Linked DNA regions of Homo sapiens: regions 1 and 3 are each linked to region 2. The links come from fine-mapping of genetic effects on gene expression. A gene starts in region 2. Each other region holds a variant in brackets. All regions are shown on one strand. Distances are from middle to middle.

Region 1 (6,117 bases), 84 kb after region 2:
CCTTGATCTTGGTGGGGAGGGCGGTGGCGAATGCAGTCACAAGTGTCCTTAGAAGGGGAGGTGGGCAGAGGGAAATTTCAGAGAGCAGCGTGACTCCTGAGGCAGAGATGGAGTGATGGGACCACAAGCCAAGGCATGCAGAAGCTGGAAGAGGCGACCATGAACTTATTCTCCTTTACGGCCTATGGAATCCCTCTCAACACCTTAATATCTGCCCATTAAAACTGATTTTGGCATGAATTCTGGCCTCTAGAGCTGAAAGAAAATAAATTTCTATTTTAAGTCAATAGAAGATATCAAATGACCTAGTCACAAAAAAAATTTATTTTAAAGATCTTAATTGGCTTTTATTTGCAATTCTAGAATCAGATGAGACCTCATCCTATAAAACAGAATGAGTGTTGTGATGAGCTGAGCAGAGGAGGTTGGTTTTATTGACAGAAAAGGGCTGAAGAAAGCCGAAACAGAGAACAAAAAGCAGTTTGGTTGTTTTAAAGTTACTTACCTTTTTTAAAGTTTAAAGCAGGAGGTACTGCCTTATCATGCCAGCTAAAATTGGCCTGCTTGGGGATTTGGCTGTTATCTCCATTCCTCTCCCGATTTCTTGGAAGGTCAGATAAACAACTTGGTTTTGGCTTGGTGGTGTGAACTTCAGCATGAGTAACTCCATTTTGGTTTGGTCTGTTGAGCCTAGTGCAGGAGCTCAGTCCAAACCAATGAACTTCTATAAATTTTATTTAACGGAGGCTTGTATTAGTTTCCAATGACTACTGTAACAAATTACCACAACATTGGTGACTTTGGTAATTCAGTCACATCTGCTAAGTCTTTGTCACAGTTGGGATCACGTGGAATAATCGCTTGAACCCAGGAGGTGAAGGTTGCAGTGAGCTGAGGCGACGGCCACTGCCCTCCAGCCTGGGAGACAGAGCGAGATTCCATCTTAAATTTAAACATGGGGCAGCTATCAACCAAAGTCAAAAGAGAAACAAAAATATAAGGCATCTGTTAAAACATTACTTTCAAGTAAATGTAAGCAGGTTTTGAAAAATTAATTGGCTGCGTGTGGTGGCCCACGCCTGTAATCCCAACACTCAGAGGCCGAGGCGGGCTGATCACCTGAGGCCAGGAGTTCAAGACCAGTCTGGCCAACATGGTGATATCTCATCTCTGCTTAAAATACAAAAATTAGCCAGGCATGGTGGCGGGTGCCTGTAATCCCAGCTACTCCGGAGGCGGAGACACAAGAATTGCTTGAACCCAGGAGGCAGACAGGGCAAAACCCTGTCTCGAATAAAAGAAAAAAAGAAAAAGAAAAATTAATCCATGCTCATTAGTTTAGCTTTAATCTTAAATATTTATAACTTTTGAAATGTTGCATGACCAGTATGTTCATAAATTCATCAAACATATCCTCACAGCATCTACAGGGAAGATATCATTCCCATTTCAGAAAGAGGAAAACATGATGAGAGTGGGTTTTTTTTTGTTGTTTTTTTTTTTTTTTTAATTTCAGGCTCCCGGAGACTGTAAGTGGCAGAGTTAGAATTTAAGCCCAGATCTATGTAACTCCAAAATTCTTAATCTCTAAACTGAAGAATTGTTTTCAGTCTTGTTCCAGTACCTATACTAGATTTCCAAGAATTCAGACAACTCCTAATCTACCACATAGGGGAAATAGGGTCTATAAGAATATCATTTATGTCAGATAGTGAAACAAACATGAGATTATTTACACATTCCAGACCCAGGTGACCTAAATCTTCAAAGAAGGTGACTGATCCCTTTGGAGCAGGTGCTGCGTACAGTGAGAGAGAAGTATGTGTATTGTGTGCAGCGGCATGGATGGGGAACGATTTCTTCTGCCCAAGGATATGAGGGTGTGGGTGGCTTCTCAGAGCAGATTATGTCTGTGTTGGGTTTTGAAGGATGAATAGGCATTTGCTAAGCATGGTTTCTTTGAAAAAAAAAAATTGCTAAGCAGAAAAGCAGGGATGTGTGGCACTCTAGACAAGAGTGAACAGCAAGACCAAAAGATTATAGATGTCTTCAAGGAACAGGTCCTTCAGTGCTGCTAGAGTATTCAATGTGAGGTGCTTGGGGGCAGGGAGCACAGGCAGATGAGGAAGGCAGATCTGAAAAGCCTTGTATGCCATGCTAAGGAGCATAGACAATCCTGCAGGCTTTGGTGAGGGTCATTTTTAAGGGTTTCAGTAGGGGAGCAGAACAGGACAAATTGCATATTAGAGAAACTTGCAGCAGTGTGGAGGACAAATTGAAGGAGGAGGAGATAGGGCATAGATTCCTTAATGTTTGAAATAGTACAGTTGAAAATGGGACAAGGATTTTAAACTGTGGCAGTGGAAATAGAGATAGATCAATACAACGTAAGTTAAGGAGATGGAATGTTAGGTTTGATGAACTGGGATGGCAGGTAGCGAATGTGAGAGGGAGAACTGTTCTCTCTGGCATTTGAATTGTGTTTGAGATGAGACATTTTCAGGGGAAAAACAGGTTTAACTGGGAATGAAGATTGGACCTTTTAAGTTTGAAATGTAGATAGGATATTCTTTTTGTTGAGAAGCAAAAATTGGATATAGGGCTGTACACAACAAAATAATAATAATTATGATAATACTAATATTATCAGAGCAATAGATTTAGAATGTAAAGGTTTAGTTAAAACATCAATATTGTTATTGAATGATAAGGTTAATAAGGAATGGATTGAACCACTTAAGGATGGAGTGTGTAAAATGAAGTAGGTTTGGAGGTAGAACCATAAAAGAAACAAATGTCTAGCTGCTGTGTAAAGGAATGCTAATTCAGCAGAGCAGACCTAGCAGAAGTGATTAGCATAAAAGAACCAGAGGACTGAGATTAGGAAAACCAGGAGAGGGGAGTGTTAACTGTCTCAGGTGCTACACATCAGTCCTTTGAGATGCGGACCAAGAAGCACCTTTTGACTTTGTCAGTTAAAGAGACATCAGTGACCTTTGCTGAGGCAATAGGGAGAATAGAATTAAGATTACAGTTAATGGAGGAGGGAAAGAGGTGGGAGGGAGGAAGTGAGAAGTACAAATAGCCTTTTTGACTGAGAAGGAAAAGAGAAATTCAACAACATCAAAGAATGGGAGTGACTAAAGTGTGTTTTTCAGCTGGTACATAGGAGCCAGTAGAGAGAAAAGGTTGAAGATGGAGGGAAGAGAAGAACCAGTTGTTAGGACAAGGTGCCAGGGATGTTGGGAAGAAAACAGATCCAGCGACATATGATGGAGGGTGGACTTAACTACCCTAAGATTTGAGGGCAACAAATATTTGCTTGGGGCATGGGAGTGATTAGGATGGTGGCTTAAGGAGAGTGACAAAAATTTTAGAATAGCTGCTAAAGGGAGAATGAAAGCAAATGAAAGAGTTGTCTGCCAGATGGTGTTAAGAGCCCATCTGAAAGTGAAAACCATGAATTGTTCATCACATCATTCAATCTGCATGGGTAGATGCTGCCTTTCATTTGAAAGCAGCATATTTCTTTCCT[TA/T]AAAAAAAAAAAAATTGGCTGGGTGCGGTGGCTCATGCCTGTAATCCCAGCACTTTGGGAGGCCGAGGTGGGCGGATCACCTGAGGTCAGGAGTTCGAGGCCATCCTGGCCAACATGGTGAAACCCCGTTTCTACTAAAAATAAAAAATTAGCTGGGTGTGGTGGCGCATGCCTGTAATCCCAGCTACTCCAGAGGCTGAGGCAGGAGAATCACTTGAACCTGAGAGGCAGAGGTTGCAGTGAGCTGAGATGGTGCCACTGCACTCCATCCTGGAAGACAGAGTGAGATTCCGTCTCAAAAAAAAAAAATTGCTCTAAAATGTATCTGCTTACTAAAAACTATTTCTTCTTTTGCACTACTTGGAACTTCCTTGTCAGTTTAAGCTGGTTTAGGTTAGCCAGCTAGCCAAAAGTTTTTTTTTAAATGTAAAATATAAAAATATGTTATGAGTTATAAATAATATGGAAGCTATAATAGAATCCAGACGCTGAGTAACTATTTATTGAGTGTTTAGTGCTTTCTAGCATGCAGAAATGGCCAGGGAAATATGTCCTCTGACATGTTAACAGCTAACATTTTATCCTCATGTGTGTGGAGGTAAGGGGCGTTGCATATAGTAGTTTGGATAACAGCATCCCCTGTCACTTCAAGTTATACTTTTTAAAAATTGTAAAGCATTCTTATATTTGAAATCATATAATCATATTCTTCTGAGAACATTTCATAAAATAAGCCATATAAAGAGCCCTGTTCTACTCTGAGACCCCTTTAAAAATTTTAGCAGTTTTAAATTTAGTCTCAAGTAATTCAGCAAGTTTAAAAAAATTGTTCTAGCCAACAAGAGCTATAATAGGCACTTAATAATTGCCAACATGGTAAATATAATATCAATAGCTTGAAGAAGCACTGACTTTTGGCTTTCTGACTAAATTTGTGTCTCCAAAGGTAAAATGGTAATTTAACAACAAGTCAGCCCCCAACTTACAAATAAGATGTGTTAGAAAAGGTTGTATAATATTGAGTTGGGTATGAATTACATTTATTTTTATTGTTTTTTTCTAGAAAACTTAAAAGATAAGTGTAAGCAATAAAATATAGATAAGTTTAGAAGTAAAGAAAATCACAAAATACCGACTTGCTAAACATAGAAGTCAATAACATTGCTGTAATTGAACTTCAGTTTTAGCTCCGTTTCCCATTGTAAAAGGGAAATATAAGTTACCATGCTGTCAGAAAGAAGAGGCATTTTGGTTTATCCGGAGAGACAGTTTTTCCTTGAATAGAATTTCTCATGTGGGTTTTTATTTAGGAACACTGGGTGGTATAATAGACAATTTGCTGTACAAAATTTTTGCAGCTAAATAGGCAGGCTTCCTTTGGTTTTTTATTACAGCTGTCTTTGGAAAAAATCTAAGAGAGTAACATTGAACTCATCTTAATATAGGTGATTCTTAGAGGTCCTAAACTAATGTGATCCTTCTAGTGGTTAAATGTTCTGTTGGCCGGGCACAGTGGCTCATGCCTGTAATCCCAGCACTTTAGGAGGCCAAGGTGGGCAGATCATTTGAGGTCAGGAGTTCGAGACCAGCCTGGCCAACATGCCGAAACCCCATCTCTACTAAAAATACAAAAATTAGCCAGGCGTGGTAGCAGGCACTTGTAGTCCCATCTACTTTGGAGGCTGAGGCAAGAGAATTGCTTGAACCTGGGAGGTGGAGGTTGCAGTGAGCCCAGATCACACCACTGCACTCCAGCCTGGGTGACAGAGCGAGAATCCATCTCAAAAAAAAAAAAAAAAGTTCTGTTAAGGGCAGAGCCTAGACTACCTAAGGGATTCACTGCCTGGATGGCTGTGGGCTAAGAACCGTTATTAGGACAGGGAGAAAATGAAGGTGAGACATAGGTTTTTCCTATCATGTTTTCTTGTAAATGTGATTACTATCTTCCAGATCTACTACTGATTGTCTGCCTGCTACTGTTACCTCTTAATATGTTAAATATAACCTGGGATGCTTCTAATCCTTCTTTCCTTGACTCTCTCTCCAGAAAAAGTCCTCCATGACTTCTTTTCTCAATACTGTAATTACTGATGTAGTTATTTTGATTGTGTTTTATAGTCATAGCAGTGAGACTGCCTTACAACAATATTGTCTAAATTAAGTAAATGCAATAGCCAATATTAGACTGGTTTTGACCTTCAGAATGGCAACGCCAAGGATTCATCCCCATGTTGTAATTATGATTTTTAAACGTATTATAATCAAAAACACAGTATTAAAAGGGATACATGGGGTTTTTCAGTCATGCAACAAATATTTTACTCTGTGCTCCATAAACACCTACTATGTGTTAAGCATTATTCTCTATGCCAGGGAGATGATTGATATGATAGTAAACAAGAGAATTACACGTGTGGAATGCAGTTTACTCCCAGAAAGGGAAAGATTGAATAAAGCAGTAGGTTACCCAGAATTGCAGAAATATTTAGGCACCAAGGAGTAATGGAAAGGCTAAATATGTACAGGATGATATATGTGATAGGAGCTTGGCATACGGCCTGAGCACATAAATGCTTAATAA
Region 2 (6,117 bases):
GTCTTGAACCCCTCAAACTCATCCATGAGGGTTGGAATCAACTTCTTCCAAACTCTTGATAATGTTGATCTTTTGGCTTCCTTCCTTAAGTCACAAATGTCCTTGATGGCATCTAGAATTATGAATTTTTTCAATTTACTTTTTCCAGATCCATCCAAGGACCCCCTATCTCTGGCAGCTATAGCCTTATGAAATGTACTTTCTACATAATAAGACTTGAAAGTCACAATGACTCCTTGATCCATGAACTGTGGAATGCATGTTGGGTTAGCCAACATGAAAACAACACTAATCTCTTGTATGTCTCCAGGAGAACTCTTGGGTAAACAGGTACACTGTCAATGAACAGAAATATTTTGAAAGGAATCACTTTTTCTTTTCTTTTTTTTTTTTTTTTTTTGAGCAGTAGGTCTCAACAGCAGACTTAAAATGTTCAGTCAGCCATGACAGATGTGCTGTCATCTAGGCTTTGTTGTTCCATTTATAGAGCACAGGAAGAGTATATTTAGCATAATTTTTAAGGGTCTTAGAATTTTTGGAATGGTCAATGAGAATTGGCTTCAACCTAAAATCACCAGCTGCATTATCTCCTAACAAAAAAGTCAGCCTGCCCTTTGAAGCTTTGAAGCCAGGCATTGACTTTTCCTCTCTAGCAGTGAAAGTCCTAGATGGCATCTTCTTTCAATAGTAGGCTGTTTTGTCTACATTGAAAATATGTTTAGTGTATCCACCTTCAATGATCTTGACTAGATTTTCTGGATAACTTGCTGCAGCTTCTACATCATTTGCTGCTTCATCTTGCACTATTATGTTACGGAGATGGTGTTTTTCCTTAAATCCCTGATAGCTTCAACCTTTTCTTCTGCAGCTTCCTCAGCTCTCTCAACCTTCATAAGATTGAAGAGAGTTAGAGCCTTGCTCTGGATTAGGCTTTGGCTAAAGGGAATGTTGTAGCTAGGTTGATCTTCTCCCCAGACCACTAAAATTTTCTCCCTATCTGCAATGAGGCTGTTTTGTTTTCTTATAATTCATGTTTTCACCAGAGTAGCATTTTCAATTTCCTTCAAGAACATTTCCTTTGCATTCCCAACTTGTCTAATTATTTGACACAAGGCCGAGCTTTTGGCCTCTCTTGGCTGTTGATACATCTGAGCTTAATCGTTTCTAGCTTTTCATTTAAAGTAAGGGACATGCAACTCTTCCTTTCACTTGGTCACTTAAAGGGCATTGTAGGGTTACTGGTTGGCCTAATTTCAATATTAGGCCATTATTATTAGACAATTATTAGTGTTTCATTTCAGGGAATATGGAGGCCCAAGATGAAGCAGAGAGACAGAGGAACAGCTGGTTGGTGGAGCAGTCAGAACACACACATTTATTAAGTCCCTGTCTTACATGGGCTCAGTTCATGGTGCCCTCAAAACAATTTCAACAGTAACATCAAAGATCACTGATTACAGATCACTATAACAGGTACAATAATGAAAAAGTTTGAAAGATTGCAAGAATTACCAAAATGTGCCACAGAGACATGTAGTGAGCAAATGCTGTTGAAAAACGGTGCTAGGACTTGCTTAATGCAGAGTTGCCACAAACCTTCAATTTGTAAGATGTGAAAGATCTGCAAACAGCAATAAAGTGAATCGCAGTAAAACAAAGTGGGCTTGTACAGCAAGGAGGTTATACAAATATACTTTTGAAATCCTACAGCCAGTTTGAATCCAGGCTTTGGCAGTTATTACTATGACTGGGCAAACTACTGTGTTTTTAAACTTCATTTTTCCTATCTGTAAAATGGGGATTTTTTATAGATTGTGTGTGTGTGTGTATATATACACACACACACACACATATATATATATACACACATATATATATAGTTGTTGTGAAGATTTAAAAATGTACACCGTCACAAGGACTCCATAAAATAAGCTATTATTGTAATCTATTGGAGACAGGGCAAGTAAAAATCCACACTGATGTTAAGTGAATCTTTAAAAACAAGTACCAGAAAAAGACGAGTTTTTATTTTATAAGATATGACCTAAGGGGCCTAGGAAGAGAAAAAACTTGTTTTGTCAAGTCTAAATCCACTCATATTTCATGGGGCCACGTATCACGTCCAACCTTTGATATCTGGCACACAACAAACAAACAGGAAAGGCCTTTCGTGTGCTTTAATAAAAACAGCTTTCCATTTTAAAACGATAAATATATTGGAAAAATCTGTTGGCTCTCCAACAGCTCTTATAAAACAAAGCTCAGACGCTGTGTTTTTGTTGTTTGAAAGAGAGAAATCAGGGGCTTGGGCATTATTAGGCTCCCTTTGATCGCGCCCTGGGATGGGAAGCCTTCGGGCAAAGCCCTGGGGGCAGGACGCGTTTTTTTTTTTTTTTTTTTTTTTTTTTAATCGATCCCGGAACCTTCGCGCGGCGGAGGGGGCGGGCGCGCCGCAGGGGCCCGAGGGAGGGGTCTGGGGCGCGGCGCCGCTTGCCCATCCCCCGAGCGCGCGGCGGGGCGGCCGGCCGGCGGCCGCCGGGATGCGGAGGGGCGGCGACGGGGGCCGGACCCTGCCGGGGCGGCGGGGCGGGCACCGCCCGAGGGGGTAGGGCGCGCGCGGGGGCGCGCCGGGCCGGGGAGGCGCGCTCGCTCCGCGCTCCCTTCGCTCGCTCGTTCCCTCCTCCCTCGGCAGCCGCGGCGGCAGCAGGAGAAGGCGGCGGCGGCGGCTAGGGATCAGACATGGCGGCGGATCTGAACCTGGAGTGGATCTCCCTGCCCCGGTCCTGGACTTACGGGATCACCAGGGGCGGCCGAGTCTTCTTCATCAAGTAAAGAGCCGGGGACGGCACGGGGGCCCGCGGGGGCGGGAGGGCAGGAGGCGGGCGGCTGGCGACACGGGGGAGAGCCCGGGTCTGTGCTCCTGCAGCCCCTCGGCTCGCCCCCGCGTCCCCTCTCACGCTCCGTGTCTGCCCCTTCTCTCACCCCTGCAGCGAGGAGGCCAAGAGCACCACCTGGCTGCACCCCGTCACCGGCGAGGCGGTGGTCACCGGACACCGGCGGCAGAGCACAGGTAACGCCGGGCCCAAACGGAGTTGGGCTCCGCCTGGAGGAGGCGGCAGAGCCCGGGCCGCCCGGCTCCCCGCAACCTGCCCCGCGCCGCGGGCCCCGGGAGGCGGCGAGGCGGGGCGGAGGCCGGGCGGGAGCGGCCGCAGGTAGAGGGGCCACGGGGACTCCGCCGCCGGGAGTTCTCTCCAGTCTCGGGGCGCCTCTTTCTCCTCAGCCTTTCATCAGCACTTGGAGACGGCGCCCTCTTCCTGCGCCTTCTCCCCCCATCCCAGCCTAGACGACCCTCGCGACCCTAGAGTGGCGACGCTCCCCTCCCTGAAACCTGGAGTCCTGAGTTTTTCCTCCGCGGCCGCTACTCACTCCCCGGTGACCCCCAGCTGCCGTCTTGCCCCCCAGCAATCTTCAGGCAGTCCTTACCCACTCCCCTCCCTGCAGCCCCGGACCCCGATCGCCCGCCGGGATAACGTAACCACATCCTCCCCCTCCTCCCAGGAGCGCTGCCTCCTGCCGTGCAGCTTCCTCCTCCTAGGTGGGACTTGTGGGTAGGTGGCTGATGAAGGAGGAGGAGGAGGAGGAGAGGAGTTCGGGGGTGCTGCGATCCTCTCTGTGACAGGGAACGGCTCGGGAAACGCTTGGCGCGTTCCCTCCTGCCACGGGAGGAGCAGCCGGAGCCGGAGGAGGCGTTCGCAGCCTCAGTTGCTGGCGATCCGGATCTAAAGTCCCCGCCAGCCGCACGGAGGTTGCACAGACTGCCAGGAGGCGGTGGGCGTGCGAGGGGGTGTCCCGTATGGGGGCACCCGGGCCCTGTTTGGAGGGAGTCCGTGGGGAAGCGGCTCTCTCGGGTGGCTTTGGGAGCTTGTTTGAATGCTAAGTGTGAGTGGAGCTGGAAAAGGCTCCTCGTAGTTTCTGTACTGGTCTGGGTTTCTTTTATCATTCTTTGTTTACATTCGTGACTTGTTTGTCTTTGAAATGTAACATGTGTTCTCTTACTGGCCTGCCTCTAGTCCTGGTGATTGGAAAGGCTTGAGAGCAGTTTGGGTCGAAGGCGAGGCCAGTTTCAGCAGTCCTCAGAGCTGGCCTCTGGGGTACATTCTCTCGGACTCTGACATTCCGTGAATCTGTTAAAGTTGCCAGGATATTGAACAAACCTGCCTCTCTGTGAAATGCTGGAGTTCACTGAAGTGACTAATGTCTCCAAATTTGCAAAAAGGTGGAGGAAGAAAGGAAAGGCTGGTGTAGCAAGCATGATGAGCTTACATTTTTAAGGCATTTCTGACTAATACACTATCATGTTTCTCAATTCCCCGGTGCAGGCTTTTGCTTCAATATACCTTTCTGGTGTTTTACACGCATATTCCAACTTTGATGGCCTCTTTGCTTTTATGGATAATGATAGATTTATTTCATGAAAGACGATATGACATTTAAATTATTTAGACTAATTATCCTATGGAATTATGAGTGATATAAATAAGTGTCCTAGTTAACCCCACAGATTTGGTAACATTCACGCCACAGAAAAATTTTATTCTTTTATGTGATTTCACTTTTTTTTTTTTCTGGTTTGGTTTTACTTTGCTTGGACTCTGGTTTTGTACACACATCGGTTGTTTTTACTTCCAAGAGGCATTTTGATGAAATCCAAACAACTTGTCATTAATAATAATATGTAGCACATAATGACCATTGTTCACCTGAATCATCCCCAACTTTACTACTTGAAACTTCACGTCTCTTAGTCAAATTTTTAGAAACACACACGGAAGTATTCGGTGTCATTTCTTTTCCATTAATTAAGTAGTTAGGAAGTTCTGCCTTCTTTTTGGTGACACTTCCTAGATGGATTCATTTGTGTAGCTGAAAAATACGGTCTTAAATAGACACAATATACCCAAGAAGAGGCAGGCGTTGCCTGTTATACCCAGCTTTTTTTTTTGCTAGTCATTCATGAGTGTTCCACCTGGGATGAGAAGGCTTCCCTTTGCTTTCTTGGGTGCCAGAACATAGTTCCTCTCCACCCTAATATATTACAGTGTGTGCTCAGGTCAGATAATCTCTAATATTATGGTTACTTTTCTGGTGGCTCTAAATTTGAATTGCTGTTTTTCAAAAAATGATATCTGTTGTATTGCCAGCTCAACACTTTTTTTGTTAGTAATCTACTTAATTAAAACAGCTAATAAATGAAAATGGATAATTAAAATGGATTGAGACTTATTTTGCTATCATTGAAGTAATACTAATTGTAATATATGTATTGTTTTAGATTTGCCTACTGGCTGGGAAGAAGCATATACTTTTGAAGGTGCAAGATACTATATAAAGTGAGTTTTTTGACTTTCATTTTTTTCCTTCGTAATTAGAATGCTGTGATTACTCCTCAGCTGAATAGTTGTATGTCCAGTCTTGATCATGATTTTCTGAAGTTTATCATATAATGGTGACTGTATTCTTTATTTTGTATAGTGTCAGAATTTTGAGAGAAGAAAATGGCACTCTTACTTTTCTAATGTTATTTGCCTGGAATATTCATCGATTCATTGATTTGGAAATTAGATCATTTATGGCCACTTTTAAAAATAATTTTGTATCTTCGTTTTTTTCTTTTGGAATCGTCCAGCTTCATCAGAATATGACCACAATTACCTTTTTTTTTTTTTTTTTTTGGTGCTTCTGTGTATATTCCTGGGTAATAGAGGATTATTGGTCATTAGCTATGTGGTACTTAAAGTTTTGATCTTTGATTATCTGTGCTGAGAGATAACAAACAAAAAAAAATCTGAGTTACGTGAACATCTTTTTTTTTTTTTTTTTTTTAGTGAACCTTGTTCATGTATATTTTGACCAGGGCTGTTTATAGGTAGCAAAAGTGATGTAAAGCTAGGCACAATTTGATAAACAATGACGGTCAGGGAGTAAAAATAGAAATAGTTACTGAATATTTCATGAGCATATATTGGAGCATTGTTTGTATTTTTGCCTCAGTTTATTTAAATATGTCTAAGTCAAGATGTTTTATTGATATGTTTGTTTAAAAAAGGCTTTTAGTAG
Region 3 (6,117 bases), 240 kb after region 2:
CTCAGCCTCCCAAGTAGCTGGGATTACAAGCGTGTGCCACCATGCCCAGCTAATTTTTGTATTTTTAGTAGAGACGGGGTTTCGCCATGTTGGCCAGGCTGGCCTCAAATTCCTGACCTCAGGTGATCCACCCGCCTCAGCCTCCCAAAGTGCTGGGATTACAGACATAAGCCACCATACCCAGCCTTAACTGGCCTTAAGAGTATATCTTCAATCTTTCCCTCCATTAAACATATTACCGGCACTAGAAAACAGAAATGCTGTGGTTTACTGTTATTAGGAATGCCTTGATTTCTTAAATGAATAGCAAGATTGAATTTGAAAAGTATTTGGCAATGTCTGCTAAGAAAAATATCTCTGCTGAATTTTTGTATTAAGAAGCATAGATTAAAACACAGTATATTAAAAATTGATGAGTTCATAATGATACAACAACAAAAAAATTACTTGTTGGCCATTTTGGAGGATGCTAGAGAATCAACTTTTAATTCCAAAACTTGGTACATTAAGGGAAAGGATCAAGTATTTATCATGTTTTTTTCCCAAATTGTAACCAAATAGTTTGAGGAAACTTATTTTTAGAAGAATTTCAAGTGGGAGTCAGAGTATCATTGTTTTGTGGCAGGGTGCAGTGGCTCGTGCCTGAAATCCCAGCAGTTTGGGAGGCTGAGGTGGGCAGATCAATTGAGGTCAGGAGTTTGAAACTAGCCTGGCCAATAATATGGTGAAACACTGTCTCTACTAAAAATACAAAAATTATCCGGGCATAGTGGTACATTCCTGTAATCCCACCTGCTTGTGAGACTGAGGCACAAGAATTGCTTGAGCCAGGGAGGCGGAGGTCTCAGTGAGCCGAGATCCCGCCACTGTACTCCAGCCTGGGCGACAGAGTGAGAATCTGCCTCAAAAAAAAAATATATATGTGTCATTGCTTTGCTAGCCCTAATGCCATAATGGATTTGAACAATATTCCTCAGTGGCTGCCAAAGCTATCAGCTGAAAATCTGACAAGGATCTTTATATGAATGGGTCAACCCAATAACCCCTGAACTCACTAATGTTTGTTTTTTTTTTGAGACGGGATCTCACTCTGTCGCCCAGGCTGGCGTGCAGTGGCGCAATCTTGGCTCACTGCAACCTCTGCCCCGCCGCCCGATTCAAGCAGTTCTCCTGCCTCAGCCTCCCAAGTAGCTGGGTTTATAGGCGCCTGCCACTGTGCCCGGCTAATTTTTGTATTTTAGTAGAAACAGAGTTTCACCATCTTGGCTAGGCTGGTCTTGAACTCCTGACCTCATGATCCTGCCTTGGCCTCTCAAAGTGCTGTGATTACAGGCGTGAGCCACCGCGCTCAGCCACACTGATCATTTTTAACATCACAAAAAGAAACAATCTGTTAATGCAATAGTTCATGACACCCACCTAATGAAGTGCTACTTGCCCCTCCAAAACCTAAATTTGAATAAGCCTTAAAATCATATAACTTTGGCCAGGCGCAGTAGGTCACGCCTGTAATCCCACCACTTTGGGAGGCTGAGGTGGGCAGATCAAGAGGTCAGGAGATCGAGACCATCCTGGCTAACACGGTGAAACCCCGTCTCTACTAAAAATACAAAAAGCCGGACGTGGTGGCAGGCGCCCGTAGTCCCTGCTACTCGGGAGGCTGAGGCAGGAGAATGGTGAGAACCTGGGAGGTGAGCTTGCAGTGAGCCTAGATCGCGCCACTGCACTCCAGCCTGGGCGACAGAGTGAGACTCCGTCTCAAAAAAAAAAAAAAAAATCTTATAACTTTATAGAAAATCCTGAGGGATACAATCATCAGAATCCAGAATGTGATAAACTATATAGGACAGATAGACCAAGTTCTTTTACATATAAATGGCAAAGAATAAAAGGGATCTGGGGCAGTTTGTTTTGGATTAAAGTAGACTTTAAGGAATTTGTCAGGCAATATATGGACCTTGTTTGGATCCTGATTCTAATTCTAAAATGACATTATGAGGCACCAGGAAAATTTAAGCACTGACTGGATATTTGATGGCATTAACATATTAAAAATATGTTCTGAAGTACTTACAAATTAAATATCATATGTAGAATCTGCTTTAAATGGTTTAGGGAGCAAGGATTTTAGGGCTTAGATGAAGCAAGATTGGCAAACCAAGTAATTATTGAAATGAATATACAGGTTTATTATTTGCTCTAATTCTTTTGTTTGAAACTTTCAAAAGAAAGAAAAGATTAATTGTAAGAAAATGTTCGTTGTTAAACATAGGTGGTGGCATCTTTTATAACAAAAAAAAGAAAAATTAATTGTATTCTATAGTGACAAATTTTTAAATACCAATCTATTTTCATCAGCCCTCAAGATGAAACACAGACCGCAAATCATAAACCAGAAGAGCATCCTGAAGAAAATACAAAGAACAGTGTTGACGAACAGGAAGAAACTGTTATTTCTTACGAATCAACTCCTGAGGTTTCTAGAGGAAATCAAACAATGGCAGGTAGGTAGTATACACTTCATAATTTTCTACCTGGTGCTTCCTCTGAACTTCTAAATTTATTTTCCATGGGGAGATTCTAAGAAGGGAATCGCTTAAGTACCTTGACTACAGATGAGTCAACGTTTGCCTCCCCAAGTGTACCTTCAGGAGGATGCAGCCCCTGCCAGAGTCTACCCTGGCAGAGGGATCAACACATTGGCTTTGGTTTTGCTTTTTCCTTTCAATTTTAACACATAGAGTAAACTTTTTCTAATAAAATCTTTTGGCCGGGTGCGGTGGCTCACACCTGTAATCCAGCATTTTGGGAGGCCGAGGCAGGTGGACCACGAGGTCAGGGGTTCAAGACCAGCCTGGCCAAGATAGTGAAACCCCGTCTCTACTAAAAATACAAAAAATTAGCCGGGCATGGTGGCAGCCACCTCCAATCCCAGCTACTCAGGAGGCTGAGGCAGAGAATTGCTTGAACCCCAGAGGCGGAGGTTGCAGTGAGCCGAGATCGTGCCACTGCACTCCAGCCTGGGTGACAGAGCGAGACTCCTTCTCAGAAAAGAAAAGAAAATCTTTCAGTACTTGGAAAATCTATCTGTTCTCAGGGCTAGATTCTCAGAGTATTCACAAGCCTGCCACATTGGGAACTGTGGAGGATTTAATATCTAAACTAATAGAATGGGTTTGTTTACTCCAGCATTGCTATAATCCATACCTGGCTGTTCCTTCAATTGTAGAAAATTATTATCCATGGCATTTTAAAAAAAACAAGTTGTTCTGTGCTCTATTCTCTCATATTTTTTGGACTCTTCACAAATCTTTTCTTTTTTTTTCCTGGAGGCAGAGTACTCCCTCTGTTGCCAGCGCTGGAGTGCAGTGGCGCTATCTTGGCTCACTGCAACCTCTGCCTCCCTAGTAGCTGGGACTACAGGTGTGTGCCACCACACCCGGCTAATTTTTTGTATTTGTAGTACAGATGGGGGTTACTATGTTGGCCAGGCTGGTCTGGAACTCCTGACCTCCAGTGATCAGCGCGCCTCAACCTCCCAAAGTGCTGGGATTACAGGCATAAGCCACCATGCCCGGCCCTTTTACTCTTTTTCTTTATGATTTTTTGGGAACAGGGATGGGAATTAGTGCATATTATCGCTTTGCTTCTTCTTTTTTTTTTTTTTTTTTTTTTTTTGAAGCTCTTTCACCCAGGCTGGAGTGATGTGGCGTGATCTCAGCTCACTGCAATCTCCACCTCCCAGGTTCAAGCGATTCTCCTGCCTCAGCCTCCCAAGTAGCTGGGATTATAGGTGCCCACCACCACGCCCAGCTAATTTTTGTATTTTTGTAGAGGC[A/G]GGGTCTCGCCATGTTGGCCAGGCTGGTCTTGAACTCCTGACCTCAGGTGATCCACCCACCTCAGCTTCCCAAAGTGCTAGGATTACAGGCGTGAGCCACCATGCCCAGCCAGCTTTGCTTCTTTTTTATTTTATTTTATTTTATTTTATTTTTGAGATGGAGTCTTGCTCTGTTGCCCAGGCTGGAGTGCAGTGGCGCGATCTCCACTCACTGCAAGCTCCGCCTCCTGGGTTCATGCCATTCTTCTGCCTCAGCCTCCTGAGTAGCTGGGACTGTAGGTGTCCGTCACCACGCCTGGCTAATTTTTTGTATTTTTTTTTTTTTTAGTAGAGATAGGGTTTCACTGTTAGCCAGGTTGGTCTCAATCTCCTGGCCTCGTGATCCGCCCGCCTCGGCCTCCCAAAGTGCTGGGATTATAGGCATGAGCCACTGCGCCCGGCCCAGCTTTGCTTCTTGTAGTCCATAAGTAAAAAACCATTCCTACAAAACCCCGCCACCACTCCTGCCCTTTTGCAGAAGAGTAAGAAACAATGAAATTCAAGTATTCAGGACCATTCTTCTTAGGAAAAGCATGGGGTTCTGGGCAGAACATCTTCCGTATCTTATATAAATATAACGTGTATGTTATAAATTTAAATAAAATAAACTTTATTTAATTTACTTATTTAAAATAAATTATAAATTTATATTACCAGTCATGTTCCCTTGTAACAAATACTAAGCACTGCCTTTTCCTTTGCCTCTGTCACTTACAAGGCAGTATGAGCTGGGTGCAGTGGCTCACGCCTATAATCTCAGCACTTTCGGAAGCCAAGGCAGGAGTATTGCTTGAGCTCAGGAGTTCAAGACCAGCCTAGGCAATGTAACAAGACAACGTTTCTACTAAAAATAATGCTTTTAAAAAATTAGCCGGATGGGATGGCACTATAGACCCAGCTTCTCAGGAGGCTGAGGTAGGAGGATCACCTGAGCCCAGGAGGTTGAGGCTACAATGAGCTGTGTGACTGCATTACTGCTTTCCAGCCTGAGCAACAGAGCAAGACCCTGTCTCAAAAAATAAATAAATAGCCAGGCACAGTGGCTCACGCCTATAATCCCAGCACTTTGGGAGACTGAGGCAGGTGGATCACCTGAGGTTTGGAGTTCGAGACCAGCCTGACCAACATGGAGAAACCCCGTCTCTACTAAAAATACAAAATTAGCCAGGCATGGTGGCCATGCCTGTAATCCCAGCTACTCAGGAGGCTGAGGCAGGAGAATCGCTTGAACTTGGGAGGCAGAGGTTGTGATGAGCCGAGATCACGCCACTGCACTCCAGCCTGGGCAACAAAGAGCGAAATTCTGTCTCTAAATAAATGAATAAGGTAGTGTGCACAGGAGGTCTCACTTGTTAAAAAAAAAATTGTCACTGGCCAGTTTTGGTTATTATGCAGCAGGTCTGGATCAAAGTGTTATGATAGTATTAAAACCACAACATTTAAATCATCCATAGTATTTAGCTGCATAGAACTAAAAAAAGTTCCAACAGAAAATTAACCTCAAAGCAGAAAAAAAAAATGTAAAGTATTTTTTTTGTTTGTTTGTTTTTTGTTGTTGTTGTTGTTGTTTGAGACAAAGTCTTGCTCTCTTGCCCAGGCTAGAGTACAGTGGTACAATCTCAGCTCATTGCAGCCTCTGGCTCTTGGGTTCAAGCATTTCTCCTACCCCGGCCTCCTAAGTAGCTAGGACTACAGGCACGAGCTACCATGTCTGACTAATTTTTGTATTTTTAGTAGAGTCGGGGTTTCACCATGTTGGCCTGGCTGGTCTCGAACTCCTGACCTCAAATGATCCGCCTGCCTCGGCCTCCCAAAGTGGTGGGATTACAGACATGAGCCACCACGCCCAGCCAAAAAAAAAAAAATTTTTAAGTAGTTGTCAGGAAATATTTTATACTGAATAATTAGATTGCAAATTAGAAAATAACAGGCTGGGCACATAATCCCAACACTTCGGGAGACCAAGATGGGAGGATTGCATGATGCCAGGAGTTCAAGACCAGCCTGGTCAACATGGTGAGACCCCATCTCAATTAATAAAAATTTGTTTTTAATTATTTAAAAAGAAAAAATCACAATAGAACCAAATGTATCTATTACTTCCTTCTCAAAACATGTTCTAATTTTTGTGGGATTACAGCATCAGGATTTACTTCTCCAAATGTGTCTTAAAGATTTTTATCTTCTCCCATTTTCTTTGTGTGTTTTAGTGAAAAGTCTGTCCCCATCTCCTGAGTCCT

Which allele goes with the higher level. Alleles are on the strand shown, and positions count from the first base shown. SD is a standard deviation of normalised expression in the study named. Not every link is listed here.
In carriers of allele TA in region 1, the expression in monocytes after Pam3CSK4 of the gene that starts at base 2,673 in region 2 tends to be higher than with T alone (large effect, 0.80 SD a copy in Quach 2016).

What was found. PIP is the estimated chance that this variant, and not a neighbour inherited with it, causes the effect.
Region 1: its variant is the best candidate, but not a certain one, in a credible set for the expression of PLEKHA5 in monocytes after Pam3CSK4 (Quach 2016, PIP 0.73).
Region 3: its variant is the best candidate, but not a certain one, in a credible set for the expression of PLEKHA5 in whole blood (TOPMed, PIP 0.80).

What each region holds. Positions count from the first base shown.
Region 1 is chr12:19,211,344-19,217,460 of GRCh38, forward strand. All of the region lies in intron 3 of PLEKHA5 (pleckstrin homology domain containing A5), which reads left to right. Among named protein-coding and RNA genes, the nearest start is that of PLEKHA5, 85 kb to the left of the region's middle. The variant TA/T (reference allele first, on the strand shown) is at 3,536.
Region 2 is chr12:19,127,061-19,133,177 of GRCh38, forward strand. PLEKHA5 (pleckstrin homology domain containing A5) reads left to right here and starts at 2,673. Exons shown (of 32, transcript NM_001256470.2): 1 at 2,673-2,828; 2 at 2,991-3,070; 3 at 5,333-5,390. The coding sequence starts at 2,740.
Region 3 is chr12:19,363,606-19,369,722 of GRCh38, forward strand. PLEKHA5 (pleckstrin homology domain containing A5) reads left to right here. Exons shown (of 32, transcript NM_001256470.2): 30 at 2,359-2,504; 31 at 6,088-6,117. Among named protein-coding and RNA genes, the nearest start is that of AEBP2, 73 kb to the right of the region's middle. The variant A/G (reference allele first, on the strand shown) is at 3,839.